3 linked regions of the Homo sapiens genome follow. The protein of the gene in region 2 purifies or fractionates together with the protein of the main gene of each other region. This does not show direct contact. Each region holds a gene or a part of one and is shown on either strand. Other genes may lie near its edges. The genes, in order: TEDC1, TPTE2 and KIFBP.

Region 1 (3,946 bases), on a different chromosome or scaffold from region 2:
CGGCCGTGCACAGGGGCTGGGGGGCCTTCTGGAAACTCCCTTGTCAACTCAGCCAGCCGCTGCTGACTGGCCACCTTCAGAGACCCTCTTCCCCACACTGGCTACTTAGATACCGGCCTTGGCAGAAGGCCACCCCTCCGGACACCCACTGGTTTAAAAGAGCCCAGGGGTCTGGCCCTGCCTTAGGGCTGTGGTGGGTGTGCTGCAGGCTCAGCTCGACAGGTGCTGTGGGGGCAGTCTAGGGTGGCCCGCAGGGTGGGGTGTGTGGGGGTGATTGGGGGATTCCTGGAATTCCAAGAGCTGGGAGCCACAGCACTTTTGATGGGATGGGGGCAGGGGGTGCTGAGGTGAGGCTGGTTTCTGGCTGGACGGTGGTGGGTGGAGCTGAGGGAACTGAGATCTTTGAGACAGCGACACCTGGTGCAGAGAAAAATCCGCAAGCTCGGGGGTTGGGAGAGCGCTGAACAAGGCCGCAGAGCTGCTCCGCCATCTCCCCCACGCCTCCTGCCAAGTTCTGTGGCGCCGCGGTTCCCCACCTCCTGCTCCCATCCCCCTGGCTCCCGCCGCCCTGTAGCTCGGCAGGTGCAGTAGGCGCTCCGAGGAGGAGGCCCCTTAGCTTCAAGAAACCCGCGTGGGCGGGGTGAGGAGCGCAGTCCTCCTACTGGCGCCGTGAAGGAGATCGCGATGCGCCGGAGGGAAGGAGGCTGCGGGCGGGGAAGGACGGAGGGCGTGCGGGGAGGGAGAGGAGGGGCTTGCTGGGGGGGGGGCCCCGAGGCGGGGCCGGGAGGGCCGCCTGGAAGAGGAGGTCGGGGGCGAAGGAGGCCGAGAAGAAAGGTGGGGCCGGGACCCCTCGGGCTGCGCCTCTCGTGGGCGTGTCCAGCCAGGGCTGGGGGTCCAGGGAGGACTGAGTTTCCCTCTCCCGCCGTCCTCGCAGCCCCGGGAGGTGCAGGGGCATCGCGGGAACAGCCCCGGTGACACGCTGCCCGGGGTCTTCACGAATGCCCGGAGGCGCCGCTGGCCAGAAGCCAGCCCGACCTTCCATCCCCGCAGACAGCCCCACGTTCCTCCCGGCCCGCGTCTTTCGGGGCCGCCCGTGCAGGCGGGCCCGGCTCAGCGGCGCCCGGGCAGCAGCTGCTTCCATGCGCCGGCTTCCTCCGGGGCTGCTCCGTGGCGGCGGCAGAGGGAAGCGCTGCCGCGGGCGGGCGAGGATCGGGAGCGCCTGAGGAGGCTGCCGCGGGCTCCGGCTGCGCGTTCGGGGCGGGGGAGCTGCCCGGGACTTCGCGCCAGGGGCCAGGGGCCGGCCGCGCTGGGGTCTGCGCTGTGCGGCGCGGCGGGCTCTGGGCGCCTCCTGGCGGCCCAGCCTGGAAGGCGGCGCGATGGGGCGAGGCTCGTCCGCTCCGACTGCGTAAGCGGCCCCACAGGGCGCCTTCCGGAGTCTGCGCGCTCCCGCCCGGCGGTTGCTAGGTTGCCAAGGGGCGTGAGGCGCTGATGGGTGGGGTCTGAGCGAGGCGGGGTGTCGGGTGTCGTGACGATTGAGCCTGCAAGGGCGGACTCTGCGGTGTTCTCCATATCAACAGCCCTGCCAGGAGCCCGGAAGTGGGTCCGCACGAGACAGAATAGACTACACTCAAACTCCAGGGGAACCGTTCATTGGGCTTGGACACGAAGGCGGGACCCTGCCGACGCAGTGATTGGATGCATGTCCGGCCAGCGCGGTGATTGGGTACAGGTCTCGGGAGCGCGGTGATTGGGTACAGGTCTCGGCCAGCGCGGTGATTGGGCGCAGGTCCCAGCCGGCGCGGTGATTGGGCGCTGGACCCGGCCCGTGCCATGATTGGGCTCAGGTTCCAGCCGGAGCGGTAACTGGGCGCAGGTCCCAGCCGCCGCACTAAACCCGGCCCGTGCGGTGATTGGACGCAGGCCCCGGGCCGCGGCGGAGGCGGGCGATCCGAAAGAGGCTGGTGCTGGCTGCATGGGGAGGCGGCGGCAGCGGGTGGACCCCGCGGCTGGGGCCCGGGCCGGGGCCCTGCCTGAGGCCATCGCCGCGTTGAGTCGGTCGCTGCCCTCGGGACCCAGCCCCGAGATCTTCCGCCGCGCCAAGTTCGACCGTCCGGAGGCGGTGACGCTCTCGCGGAGGGCAGGCGGGCCGGGTGGGGTCCCGGGCCCTCGCAGGGAGTTGGGCCGGCTCCGCTGACCGCCCGCTTTTTATTTTCCGCAGACCTCCGCGCTCTGGCAGCTCCTCTTCCGTGTGCTCTCGCCACTCCCTGCGGGCAACGCCTTGGCATCGCTCGCCCTGGGTAAGCCCCGCTCCTGGCCCCGCCCACCCGGTAGCACTGGCCCCGCCTACTCCTGTAAAGCCCCGCCTTCCCCAGTAAGCCCCGCCCCGGCAGGCTCTAGCCCCCACCCAACACTGACCCCGCTTGCTCCTCAAAACTCCGCCTTCCCCGGTAAGCCACGCCCCCTGATGGGCCCTAGCTCCACCCCCTTGGGTAGCACTGGCTTCTGCTCCTACAAAGCCCTGGGGACGTCCCTGTTGGCCCCTGGTCTCCTCATCCTGGTCTGAGTTCTAGCTCTCCCACTATCATCTCTTCTGAACTAGGCCTTGAGCTTCTGCTCAAGTGACCTGTGGGGGTCTCTGGAGGGATCCAGGTGGTGTCACCTCCAGGTGGGTGGTCCCCCTAAGGTGGTGGTCTTCTGTCCTAGAGGTCCAAGCCCGCTTGGTGAAGTCAGCACTATGCTCCCAGGGCTACCCGAGGCTGGCACTGGCACAACTACCTGAGGATGGCTCGCAGGGCAGTCGGGAGCTGCTGCTGGCTCTGTCCTGGCTCTTGGCCCGAGGACCTGTGCCCGAGCAGATGCTGGCCCAGGCCCGAGTGCCTCTGGGTGACGAGATGACTGTGTGCCAGGTGCGTGTGGGTGAGGGTGAGCTGAGCCAGCCCTGGTCTCAACTCCTGGGGCCAGAGCAAGGGCAGGCCTGGGTCAGCCCCCTCTGTCTGCTTTGCTCCTCAGGGCAGTCCCATGAAGGGTTACCCAGCTGCCCAGCTGAAAGCACGGAGGCTCCCTGTGCAGGGAGCACCCGTTGTTTTTGGCTGTGCCTCCACTACCGTCTCCATCCTGGCCTTTTCTGGGGGGCAGGGTGGGGTGGGAGCAGGGCCTGACCCTTGCCCCTCTCCAGTGTGAGGCCCTGGCCAGCCCTGGCCCACCTGCACCCCACATGGAAGCAGAGGGTCCTGTGGATGTCCGCCATGTGCAGTGGCTGATGGGAAAGCTGCGGTTCCGGTGGCGCCAGCTGGTGTCCAGTCAGCAGGAGCAGTGCGCCCTCCTGAGCAAGGTAGAGCTGGCACAGGGCTTCCACTCAGGGGCTGTGTCCCGTGCTGCAGGCCGCCAGCTGCCAGTCCCTGCAGCCCGTCCCGTGAGGCCTGGCACAGGCTTTTGGCTGGATGTGGGCCTTCCTGCCCTGGCTTACCCAAAGCCTGAGCCCGTGGTTCCCGGTGGTCCTTGTAGGGGGCAGGGCTGGGCAGGGAGCCCAGTGGGGTGGGCAATGGTGGGCAGAAACGGGTGTCAGAGAGCTCACAGAATTTGCCTTTCTGTTCCCAAAAGTTACCAGTGGACTTCCAGCTCTGTGAACAGTGGGATGGGGTCTGTGCCATGAAAGCCACTCCCTCCTGGGCACTGGAGGGGGAGGAAGACAGCTCCTGTTGCCACCACATCCTGGTGGGGGCTGACTTGCGGGGTGGACAGCTCCTGTGGGGTCCTGAAGGTGGCAGGGGCTGGCTCAGGGGCACAGGTACCCAGTGGTGTGTCCACTGTGAGGCCAGCGCTGACAGGTGGGTCTGTGGCAGCGGCGGGCTCCCACCAGCGCGGGACTCCTTGGAGACCCCCCCATCCCACCCTTGCAGAGGGTCTGTTGCTCAGCTGGCCTTTCCAGGGACCTCTCACCCCGTCG
Region 2 (3,156 bases):
AAGTGGTCATCAGGAGAAGGTTGTATAAGGCAGATATCAGGATCAGTCACATGGAGAAACTGGGAGGAGGTGAACTGGAAACTGCTGAGGGTGACTGAACCCCGCTTCTGAGATCAGAAAATACAATTTATAATTAAAAGGGATGCTGAGGCAACAAAAAAATTATAAGAATTCACTACAATGTAGTTGGGTATATATAGGCATAGGTCCTTAGTAGCATCTGTTTGGCACTATCTAAACCAGATTCAAATAGCAGCATTTAAATTAAAGACCTATCATGGGAAAAACACTATTCCTTGAAAATTTTGATAGAAACAGCAAGAGAATGCAATAGCATTTTCTTAAAGCCTCCTCCTTTGTGTCTTGAGTGTATTGTTATAGATTGCAGAGTGCTACCTATTTAATGGTTATAATTGTTTGATAAATATATAAAGGAATAAAGAAAGGAACTTTAATTTCTTTGGAATGATTAGTTCCTGGTGTCAGTTTTACTTTGAAATTTTTTTTCTTTTTAGAATCTTCCTAAATACTATGACAATTGTCCATTTTTCTTCTGGTTCAACACGTCTTTTATTCAAAATAACAGGTATGAATATAATAGAAACCCATAGAAACAGCCTAATCTTCAATGTCTATAAATAAGGTGTAATGGCAAGTCTTTTGCTGGTTGTCATAAACTTAATTTATAGAAAGCAAAAAATCCCTGAGCCACCATTTTTCCTTGCCTTACTCCTCTTACTTTGGTTATTTTAAAAATACATTTGTTCTTGAGACCCACTGTTGCAGTATCCTCAGGGTCCATGCCATAGGACTGTGTTATGAGTTCAAAAGTATTATCATCAGATCTTAAGTTTGGTAGTAAATTCCTCCCAGAGAAGTTCAATATGAGTCTGCTCAGCACCTTCAGTATGTCAGGTCCCTGTCAGTAGGTGCTGATTTACCAATGACGAACCACCATCAACTTTTGTGCTAAAGTAAGGCAGGACCTAGGGAGGCTTCAGCTAGCTGAAAAGCTGACGGACACACTTATATCTGGGAGAAGTTACAAGACACAGTATTAAGGAATACAGCTAAGAAATATCATTAAGTAATAGTCTATTTAAATAGCCATTCAAATGTGGCTTTCTAATAACTGAATTGGGAAAACTTTCTGAAAAATTACTAATTGGGTTTGGAGATTATTGTTCCAAAAAAACCTGCCATATTTGGAACCACATTTCTCAGTCTAGAAGTTCTCCACTATAAGTAGCATTTGTTTTGTGATGGTGAAAAATTGAGATTTTTTTTTGTATCAACCATACTCTTCAATACAAAAGGACAAAATATTTTTTAAATGATTTAGGTCAGAGTTGAAGAAGTGGCTATGATTATATGTGGCATGAATTGATAGTTATTGTTACATCCAGTCCTAATCTTTTCTTCAAACGTGAACTGGATCGAATAACTCCTTAAGTCCAGCAAGGCAACAGGAAATTAAACCTCTGGTCTACACACTTGCAATGCAAAACATTTAATGGATTTTGATAGAGTCAACTTTGGATTTGATGGAAATTTTTTACAAGTATTTTTTTTAGATGCATACAAACAATAAGCTTTTTCTTCTAACATGAGCAAAGTCCCTCAAAAAGTGAGACCTGGGTGGAGCTTCATTTGATGCTGCTCCTCAAAAGTGGTTCTTGCTAAAGGATACCGTTTTTTTCCTTTAAAACACTGCGTTCATTTTGGAGAAGTGATAAGCTAGATCACTTTTATTCTTACTTTTATATAAATTTCTAAAGATTTCTGTAACATTTAAATTTACATACTACTTGGTAAAGCTGTTTTTGTTAGTTATGAGATTGTTGTTTAGCCAAAAATGCTAACTTCTATCATTTAGAACACCAGGCATAAATGGGTTAACCAATTTATGCCTAGTGTTCCATTATTGGAACGCTAAGCATATGGGAGTTATAGCCTACTGCTCAAGGTCATTTCCAAGGTCTGATTGTAAAAATTCAAAAAATTGCAACTTCACACATAAATTAAAAGAGATATAGTATTTTATTCCTGGGTTTTCATTCATGTCTATCCTGACTGATTTCTGTCACAGAGAGAAATTTAGATATTTTATTAAACTTGGATGTCATTAATTCCATATAAAGCAATGCTAAGAGAGTCAGCATGTGTTACTGATGTGTTGCTGAAGATTAAAGTATTTTTAAGTCTCACTAAAAAGGTGGAAGGAGCCAACTGAAATGCAAAAAAGGGTCTGGGGTTCTATTCATGGTGAGGTTTTTTTTTGTTTCTTCCAGCTCTAACGTGGGTACCCAACTGCGTGGCTTTTTGGTGAGCCCCAATATAAAATGTAATTTTTTTTTTCTATTCTTAGGCTTTGTCTACCAAGAAATGAATTGGATAATCCACATAAACAAAAAGCATGGAAAATTTATCCACCAGAATTTGCTGTGGAGATACTTTTTGGCGAGAAATGACTTCCAATGATGTTGTAGCTGGATCCGACTAAGTATAGCTCCCCCTTCCCCTTCTGGGAAAGAATTATGTTCTTTCCAACCCCTGCCACATGTTCATGTGTCCTAAGTCTTCCTTGATGATGCATCTATATTTATATATGTTTATATATGTTCTTCATAAATCTATTAAATATATATAGATAAAATGTCAGTGTTTTTCTTCTTTTTTGAAGGCACATACTTCACACACTTTCCATCTTGTATTTACATAAATTTGGAACACAGTATGCAGGAACATCAGGCATCATTTTGAAGAACTTTGAAATAGAACTTTCATGGCAAAAACTTGAGATATTTAAAAATTGTGATTCCCCAACACCCACTTACTTACATATTTTTGGTCAAGTATTTATTCCCTGCTTTGGTTCACATTTGTAATTTCAGATTTATTAGAAAGCTAATTTATATATTTTTCTTCCCCTTCATTTACAAACAGTCTGTTAACAGATTGGCAACCAAGACTAAGTTTTAAATCCAGAAGAGAGAAATGTTTCACATAAGCAGTTCCCCAACTCCCAACACACACTCTCTTTCATTCCGAGCATTAAATAGGTAGCTTACTTGACAAGCTTCCTTTAATTACACACAGACATGGGGGTTGGGGTAAGAAGACTGTGGTAAATATGAAGATAAGTAATCTTTGGTA
Region 3 (3,600 bases), on a different chromosome or scaffold from region 2:
GAATCACTTGAGCCCAGGAGGCAGAAGTTGCAGTGAGCCAAGACTGCACCACTGCACTCCAGCCTGGGTAACAAAACAAAAGAACTACCTGAGACTGGGTAATTTATGAAGAAAAGAGGTTAATTGACTCACAGTTCCTCAGGCTTAACAGGAAGCATGACTAGGAGCCCTCAGGAAACTTAGAATCATGGCGGAAGGCGAAAGAGAAGCAAGCATGTCTTACCATGGCAAGCAGGAGAGAGAGAGAGGGCAAAGGGGGAAATGCCACACACTTCAAAACCATCAGATCTCATGAGAGAGCTCACTCATTACCACAAGAACAGCAAGGAGGAAATCTGCCCCCAGTGATCCAGTCACCTCCCACCAGGTCCCTCCTCCAATTTAATGTGAGATTTGGCCAGGGACACAAATCCAAACCATATCAGTGGTAAATAATATAGAACCTTGTGAAACTACTAAACGAAAGAAAACCAAACAAACAAACCTCAACACATCAGAAGCATAGGTCTTGAAAAGATGAAGATAATTTTAGAGGTCAGAGGGTAAAGAGGAGGCATATTAAGGAAAGACAGGAAGTAGGGAGAATAACTGTGGGGCTTTATGTGTAGAGAATTTGGAGCCAGGAAGAGCTGTCAAGTTTATTCTGGTCAGGTAAAGAAAGCTGGAAAAGGAGGGTTGCAGGGACTATTGGAGCAAAACAGTAGGCTAATTTAAATAAGCATCCTAGAGAGAACATGTAAGTAAACAAGCAGCCCAAGAAGGAAGGAAGTATACAAGATTTAGAGACTTATGATCTACATTTGAAGTAATTGTGTCAAGCAAATCGCACTATGATTTGACCCTTACCTTTCATTTAGTTGATGTTTCTAGTCTGGGAACTTAAAACTTCATCACTTGGTTAGTTTAAACTCACATATTTGCCATGCTACTAAACTACTCAGATTTTCCTTAAACCCAGTTTTGTTTTTTGAGATGGGGTTTCTGTCACCCGGGCTGGAGTGCAGTGGCATGATCTCCACTCACTGCATCCTCCACCTCCCTGGCTCAAGCAGTCCTCCTACATCAGCCTGCCAAGTAACTGGGACAACAGGTGTGTGCCACTGTGCCCGGCTAATTCTTTGTATTTTTGTTAGAGACGATGTTTTACCATGTTGCCCAGGCTGGTCTTGAACTCTTGAGCTCAAGCGATCCACCCACGTCGGCCTCCCAAAGTGCTGGGATTACAGGTGTGAGCCACTGCGCTCACCCCTGACTTTATTTTTTAACCTTAACTTCATCCTTTATCATCTGTATATTTATCTGAAAGACCTTCTTCAGTTCAAGCTTTAAGACATACATAAATTTATTCAATTAAGTATTTATTTATGCCAACCCTGTGCTAGTCATTGGCCAAGGATACTATGATGAACAAAAATGAACCTAGCCTTTAACTTCATGTAAAAGTACAATTTTGCTAAGTTCCACAAAGGAGAGACACATGATATGAGAAGGCACAATAGGAGGAAATAACAAGCAAGCTCTGGGGATGAGTAAGTAGGAGTTACCTAGACTGAAGAAAAGAAGGCACACCATGTCAAGGAGCTGAAGCAACATGTTTAGAAGTTCTGTGGCGTAAGGGAGGATGATATCAGAAGGGATGGAGCAAAGGCTGTGAGGTTGGAGCTGAGGGAGAGGGAGTGTGATATAAGCTAAAGTTAGAGTTAGAAAGGGGCTGGAGCAATCAAGGCTTTGAAGCATTGTTGTCTTCATCTTCTGAGCATTTGGAAACCTTGAAGGGTTTGTGGAAAGATCATTGGTGAGACAGTGTCAAGTGAAAAGAAGAAAAGGCCTTGGGATCTATTATTTATTTTTATTGGCCAAGAAGAGCTTACCCTATTTCTTAACCACCTTAGTTATTCTTTCTTTTTTTATTTGCCCCCCCCCACCCCCAAGAGGTAGAGGAGATAAAACTTTAACTAGGAAGGTAGATTTAACTCTTTGTTCACTTTGATGTCTTTAAGAGACCTAGAGCATTTCTGTCTGATATATTTCACTAAATAACTAATAGCATAAACATGGTAGCATTAATCTTAATGGCATCCTTGTGAAACATTTTTATGATGTAGATTACAGTCTTTTTGTTTGTTTGTTTGTTTCTTGAGATGGAGTCTTGCACTGTCACCCAGGCTGGAGTGCTGTGGCGCAATCTCCACTTACTGCAACCTCTGCCTCCTGGGTTCAAGCGATTCTCCTGCCTCAGCCTCTCAAGTAGCTGGGATTACAGGCGCCTGCCACCATGCCTGGCTAATTTTTTATATTTTTAGTAGAGACAGAGTTTCACTATGTTGGCCAGGCTGGTCTTCAACTCCTGACCTCGTGATCTGTCCGCCTTGGCCTCCCAAAGTGCTGGGAGTAATGTATCACATATATATAATGTTTCACAATTCTCAAAGTACTTTTACATGTAGCATTTATCTTATTGGAAGGAGTAACTGTAAATAAATTTCAGTTCCTCAGAATAAATGATATGTAAGCAGCTTGTCTATTTAAATACTTTTTTTTCCACATTTCTTGAGTTTTTAATATAATCGGAAGAAAGAAAGAAGTTTTCAAAGGTGTTTAAGATTATGATACCCTTCTAAACCAGGCTGGAAAGTAAGAGACTTCTCTTCTAAAAAACTCTGAAGTTTGCTTTAATATTATTTAACAGCAGGAGGTGAGTGTCCTACTTAACCATAATTTATTTTTTTTTCCTTCAGGACAACATAGGAGAGCTTGATCTTGATAAACAGTCTGAACTTAGAGCTTTAAGGAAAAAAGAACTAGATGAGGAGGAAAGCATTCGGAAAAAAGCTGTGCAGTTTGGAACCGGTGAACTGTGTGATGCCATCTCTGCAGTAGAAGAGAAAGTGAGCTACTTGAGACCTTTAGATTTTGAAGAAGCCAGAGAACTTTTCTTATTGGGTCAGCACTATGTCTTTGAGGCAAAAGAGTTCTTTCAGATTGATGGTTATGTCACTGACCATATTGAAGTTGTCCAAGACCACAGTGCTCTGTTTAAGGTGCTTGCATTCTTTGAAACTGACATGGAGAGACGGTGCAAGATGCATAAACGCAGAATAGCCATGCTAGAGCCCCTAACTGTAGACCTGAATCCACAGTATTATCTGTTGGTCAACAGACAGATCCAGTTTGAAATTGCACATGCTTACTATGATATGATGGATTTGAAGGTTGCCATTGCTGACAGGCTAAGGGATCCTGATTCACACATTGTAAAAAAAATAAATAATCTTAATAAGTCAGCACTGAAGTACTACCAGCTCTTCTTAGACTCCCTGAGAGACCCAAATAAAGTATTCCCTGAGCATATAGGGGAAGATGTTCTTCGCCCTGCCATGTTAGCTAAGTTTCGAGTTGCCCGTCTCTATGGCAAAATCATTACTGCAGATCCCAAGAAAGAGCTGGAAAATTTGGCAACATCATTGGAACATTACAAATTTATTGTTGATTACTGTGAAAAGCATCCTGAGGCCGCCCAGGAAATAGAAGTTGAGCTAGAACTTAGTAAAGAGATGGTTAGTCTTCTCCCAACAAAAATGGAGAGATTCAGAACCAAGA

Evidence for each region.
Region 1: the proteins of TPTE2 (region 2) and TEDC1 purify together in Homo sapiens (affinity purification with mass spectrometry; 2 studies listed by BioGRID and IntAct, with this or other methods). This does not show direct contact.
Region 3: the proteins of TPTE2 (region 2) and KIFBP purify together in Homo sapiens (affinity purification with mass spectrometry; 2 studies listed by BioGRID and IntAct, with this or other methods). This does not show direct contact.

What each region holds. Positions count from the first base shown.
Region 1 is NC_000014.9:105,489,404-105,493,349, forward strand, and holds the start of TEDC1 (tubulin epsilon and delta complex protein 1), read left to right. Parts: upstream 1-1,842; 5' UTR 1,843-1,972; coding exon 1,973-2,119; intron 2,120-2,218; coding exon 2,219-2,297; intron 2,298-2,703; coding exon 2,704-2,906; intron 2,907-3,175; coding exon 3,176-3,331; intron 3,332-3,946. UniProt on the Homo sapiens protein: Acts as a positive regulator of ciliary hedgehog signaling. Required for centriole stability. May play a role in counteracting perturbation of actin filaments, such as after treatment with the actin depolymerizing microbial metabolite Chivosazole F.
Region 2 is NC_000013.11:19,422,377-19,425,532, reverse strand, and holds the end of TPTE2 (phosphatidylinositol 3,4,5-trisphosphate 3-phosphatase TPTE2), read left to right. Parts: intron 1-515; coding exon 516-586; intron 587-2,368; coding exon 2,369-2,471; 3' UTR 2,472-2,656; downstream 2,657-3,156. UniProt on the Homo sapiens protein: Acts as a lipid phosphatase, removing the phosphate in the D3 position of the inositol ring from phosphatidylinositol 3,4,5-trisphosphate.
Region 3 is NC_000010.11:69,012,803-69,016,402, forward strand, and holds part of KIFBP (KIF-binding protein), read left to right. Parts: intron 1-2,738; coding exon 2,739-3,600. UniProt on the Homo sapiens protein: Activator of KIF1B plus-end-directed microtubule motor activity. Required for organization of axonal microtubules, and axonal outgrowth and maintenance during peripheral and central nervous system development.